2 separate regions of the Homo sapiens genome follow, and region 2 is linked to region 1. A link means that fine-mapping ties the variant in region 1 to the expression of a gene that starts in the linked region. Tissue or cell type: skeletal muscle. Region 1 holds a variant in brackets; the other region holds the start of a gene. All regions are shown on one strand. Distances are between the middles of the regions.

The links. PIP is the estimated chance that this variant, and not a neighbour inherited with it, causes the effect.
Region 2: NDFIP1 starts here. The variant in region 1 is fine-mapped to the expression of NDFIP1 in skeletal muscle (GTEx, PIP 0.91).

The regions. Positions count from the first base shown.
Region 1 is chr5:142,064,935-142,067,616 of GRCh38, reverse strand. No RefSeq gene overlaps it. Among named protein-coding and RNA genes, the nearest start is that of NDFIP1, 43 kb to the left of the region's middle. The variant T/C (reference allele first, on the strand shown) is at 1,408.
Region 2 is chr5:142,107,303-142,109,984 of GRCh38, reverse strand. It overlaps NDFIP1 (Nedd4 family interacting protein 1), which reads right to left and starts at 1,206. Exons shown (of 8, transcript NM_030571.4): 1 at 948-1,206. The coding sequence starts at 1,010. RefSeq lists silencers at 777-846, 917-1,046, 1,107-1,376 and an enhancer at 954-1,455.

The sequences.
Region 1 (2,682 bases):
TTTTTTATTTTTATTTATTTATTTATTTTTGAGAGGCAGTCTCACTCTGTCACCCAGGCTGGAGTGCAGGCTCACTGCAACCTTCGCCTTTCAGGCTCAAGCAATCCTCCCGCCACAGCCTCCCAAGCACCTGGGATCACAGGTGCATGCTACCATGCCCAGCTAATATTTTTTAGAGATGGGATTCCCAATGCTTCTTGGCCTTTTGGATAAGATCAAGTGTACAGATGGGGTTTCCCCATGTCACCCAGGCTAGTCTCGAACTCCTAAGCTCAAGCAATCCGCCTGCGTTGGCCTCCCAAAGTTCTGGGATTATAGGCACGAGCCACCGCTCCCAGCCTTGAGACTATTTTTTTAATGGAGAGGTCATTTTTGTTGTTTTCCTACATGAGACCATATTCTGTGTACTCTACAACTTGCTTTTTTCATTTAACATTTTGTTTTAGACATAATCCCACTTAAAGTATATAGATCTATTTCATTCTCTACAATGATCACATTACTATTTTATTGTATGGACATACTATAATTTATTTAGACATTTTCCTCTTGGCTGGGTGCAGTGGCTCACACCTGTAATAACAATAATAATAACAATTATTATTATTATAATATATAAAAAACAGAGGTTAAATTAGAATGTATTGAAAACAGTGAACACAGAGATTGGCAGGTAGTAAGTTAGTTCACATCATGTCCAAGAGGATCTCACCTTCCACACCGGAAAATGACCCATCAAGGTGTTTATCTTACAAAAGAGCAGGTATTGCCCTAAGTGAGTTGTGCCACCAACCTAGGACATCCAACAGTTAGCTTTTAACATAATTACTTTCTTCCCTGTTAGTGTGTTGTAAGAAAGCTTCCTTTCGACTTAACACTTTAGAAATGTTGCTTATAAAATGCTTCAGTTCTCAGGGATTTCATGGTGAAAATGAAAGATGCTCTTGGATAACTTGAATGTGTCATCCAGGCCAACAGAGCTGAGATGCAGTGCAATTTCTCCCCCGCCTCTGCTATCATCCCTCCCTTCACAGATGGCACCTCCACTCACCCAAGTTTCAATCAGACTCTGGGAGTCATCCTTGAGTCCCCTTTTCCTTGTCCTCCACCCTCGGTCCCTCAGCAAGTCCTGCTGGGCTTACCTGCAAATCCTCTGTCTCCATCCATACCAGCACAGGCAGCCCTTCAGCTCTCACCTGGGCCAGCGCAGTGGTTTCCTCATGGGTCCCCTGCTTCAACTCTTGCCTTCCTGCAGGAAGTCCATTGTCCCCTAGGCTAGCAGAGGGAGCATTTAAAAGCATCAGTGGGATCACTCCCCTCTTGTGCTTAAAGGCAACCAGTGCTTCCTATTGCCTTCAGAGTGAAAACCAGACTCCATGACAAGGCTCTGCTTATCCCAGCCCGCCT[T/C]TCTCCAGCCCTGGCTTCTGCTGCTGCCCCTGACCCCCTCATTTCTCTGCCCCTAATGCCATGGCCCGCCGCTCTGAGCCTTTGCACTTGCTCTTCCTTGGACCACTCCCAACACCTGTAGCTCCTTCTCAACTTCAGAAAGACCTTTCCTGACCATTCATTCTAAATCAGTCCAGCCTTAATTTCTCTGGATCATGTCGCCTGTTTATTAGCATCTGAGTCTCTCTCTCTTTCTACTTATTTGTGTGCTGTGTTCTCCCCAACTAAACTGGAGGCTCCCTGAAGGCAGGAGCCTCGTCTGTCTTTTTCACTGCTCTGGCCCAGCATTTTGTGCGGTATATACTTGCTGAATGAATGAACAAATGAATGAATGAATCAATGAGGAAAATGAAGAGGAAATCCCAGGGGAATATATGGTCTGAGGAGATACTCAAGGTAGGGGTGCCAAGGGAATTGCCACTCCATACAGAAGCCTGGTTCCTCCCTGTGAGGGAGTCTGGGTGGGAGCTGATCTGAGCCAGAGGCATTGGCCGTGGAGTCCAGGGGTCTCCTGTGTGGCTTCCTGAGATGGCAGAGGGAGTATCCCCACCCTGCCCCCATCAGAAATACCCAGACTGCTGGAGCAAAAGGGCACAGCTGCTGCCTCCAATGCCGATTTCCACACAGCCACTGCCTTCTTCCACCAACCACAGAGCCCCTGAGTTGCCATAGCAACAGAGGACTGCACCAGAGTCCAAATAGGGATGTCTGCATTTCCCGGCACTTCTGGCTGGGGAGGCAGGGGGTGGTCAGTCCACAGCTGTGCCTATGCCCTGTCTCTGACCTGTCCTGGTCTCTAAGCAAAGCACCCTCCTCTGCCTTTCCACCCTCATTTCACTTCCTCACTTGAAAATCTTAAGAAGAGGATCTGGAAAAATAACTAACAGGTACTAGGCTTAATACCTGGGTGATGAAATAATCTGAACAACAAACCCCCATGACACATGTTTACCTATGCAACAAACCAGCACATGCACCCTTGAACTTAAAAGTTAAAGAAAAAAAAAAAGGCCGGGCGTGGTGGCTTACGCCTGTAATCCCGGCACTTTGGGAGGCCGAGGCAGGTGGATCACCTGAGGTCAGGAGTTCGAGACTGGCCTGGCCAAAATAATGAAACCCCGTCTTTACTAAAAATACAAAAAATTAGCTGGGCGTGGCAGCCTGCACCTGTAATCCCAGCTACCTGGGAGGCTGAGGCAGGAGAATTGCTTGAACCCAGGAAGTGGAGGTTGCAGT
Region 2 (2,682 bases), 42 kb before region 1:
TGCACCGAAAGCATCTGAAACATGACAAACACAAGCCGTTATTTGCGGTTCCAATCAACATCAGTTTACCACCTGGCTCAATTCCCACCATTACTGTATGTTAGATTAACACTTCCAAAAACCCTGCAGAAGGTCTCTAAATTTCCTGGGGGAACTTAGCTACAGACGCGGAGTGAAACAAGCAGCTCTTTTCCCTGGGGCCTCAATGTATTAAATCAAACCCGAGAAAATGATCCAATCATTTCCTATACATTTCCTCCCCAGCTATGCCATCAAATCTCTTAAAACGTCACTTCCAAGCATTTAAAATACACCCGGCACACGCCCTGCAGACTTCATCGTAGCTCTCCCTTTTGGGGCATCACCACAGCCAAACATCGCCTCTTCCAAATCTACTGCAAACTGCGGGCTTGTCTCTTGCTTCATTTTTTACTTTTGTCTTAAAACGGAGGCGAGGGGGATGGGTTTCGACAAACTAGGCTCTGAAACCCTGAGCAATAGCATCTTGCTGTGGGGAGCTATCGGCAGCAGCAGAGATTTTAATCTTTTCTCTCCACCCAGTTTCCGTTTCATGCTTTTTTCTTTCTTTCTTTTCCAATGACATCAAACCAAAGGTGGAAAAATGAAAAACGAATGCCTCAGATCGATGCCGCCTGTGGGTCGCGGGTTCTGACTCAGGGACCCGCCCGCCCTGGGAAATGCGGGAAACGAGGCCGGGAGGAGGACTTTCCACCGCCGGAGTCCCACCTGGGGTCGCAGACGGGCAGGCCGGGCCCGTGGCAGCCTCGAATCCGAGCCCGGGGCCCGACCCGCCCCTCCAGGCCCAGCGCGGCCTGCCAAGCCCCGGCGTCGAGTTGGCCGCGGGCCGGCCAGAGAGGCCTGAGGCGGCCAGCGGGCAGGGCAGAGCCAGGGACCGGAGTTCGGGGCTGGAGTCGGGCGCCGCTTACCTGCTGGTACCGGCTGCCGCAGGCCGGCTCGACCGCCGCCAGCGCCGCCAACGCCAACGCCATGGCGCAGCCGGCAGCAGGGAAGCAGAGCGAGCGAGCGAGCTAGCTGAAGGGGCGCGGCCGCTGCGGCTTGGGAGCGCTGGGAGGCCGAGGGGGACGCGCCTTGGGTGGGTCTCGATGGCCGCCGCCGCTCCCGGGCGAGACGCTCTTCTCAGGCTGTAAGCACCGCCGCCGCCGCCGAGGCTCCGACGCGGCCCCTGGGGAAGAGGCGGGGACTACGACGACGGCGCTGCGCCGCCGCCCCACCCCCGACTCGCGCCGCCCTGCCCGGCCCGGCCCGGCCTAGCCTAGTCCTGCGCCGCCGCCCCGAGGTGCACCGGCCCTGGTGTAGTTGCTCCGACGACCTGAGCCTCCGAGGCTCAAGTGTTGTATTCGATTCCACTAAAAACGAATTACTAACAGGCCAGCCCAAAGCAAGGGCGATGCTGCTGATGAGCACCTCGTGCCAAGCACTGAGCTTCACCTACGTGCCCTCATCCAGCCTTCAGCACAACCGCCCTGACGCAGGGACCACAACCCCATTCTCGAGGTCGTTGGCAACCAGAGAGGTTGACAATCTTCACAGCAGCGACCTGATCCCTCGTGTCTGGCAGCAGAATCGTGGTTCTTATTCACTCCCTTCTTTTATCTGCCGTACTCATAAACCAGGGGTCAGCCAGCGACAGGGAGGGGGCCAAATCCGGTCTGCCACCATGACTGTGAAAAGTACATGAAATTCAAGTTTCAGTGTCCATAAATAAAGTTTTATTGGAACACAGCAGCACCCATTTGTTTGGTATGGCCTGCAAACCCTATAATACTTGCTATCTGACATTTTACAGAAAAAGTTTGCTAACCCTAAATCCTTGAGAACTGCTTGGATCTCAAATCCTACTTAGGGTGGATGATTATAATAGCATCCTCATGTTTATGCCATCCTTTAGTATTTTAACAGCCTCATCTGCGGAATCGGAAACAATATTTTCCAAAAAAGCTCCCTGACTCGGTGACATGAAGTCAAAACTTGAAGGGTTTGGCCATGCTAAAGGCTTTCCCGACCACAGGAACAGGTGCAAAGGGCGGTCCAGAGAGAGATTGTCTTGTGGAAGAACAGAAAGGAGGCTGGCATAGCTGCCATATAGGAGATACAATTATCAGTGTTTCACAGATGAGGAAGTTATGCCCAAAGAAATTAAATATCTCACCCAATGACACAGAGCTACTAAGGGGTGAAGCTGGAATACAACTCCATTAAGCCAGCTTTCTTACCCAGTATTGCACAACTAAATTATAAGCTTTGTGAAGACAAGAGTATTTGTCTTTTAAATCTTATTACCTCCCAATGCCATGTAGCACAGTATAGCTATATAGCAGGCTTGCAAGGTCTGTTTCTTTCACACCCAGCCATCTGCAATTGCTTCTACCCACATGTCCTACAGAGAAAAACAAAATCTTCCATCTCTGAAGCTTGTTGCAATTCCCATTTCTTCTTCATTGCCTTTCCAAGTTGGCAGTGTAGAGGTTATATTAATATGATTATTGTCTTAGCTTCTAATTTTGAAGTTTAGTTAATTATGTATTTTAAAAGAGAACTGTGTTTAGAACACACCCTGAGGTTTCTGTATATATGAGAAAATTGTAATCAATAAAAACTCTAGATGTTTACCATCTTCACTTTGAGTTCTCTCTCAGCATC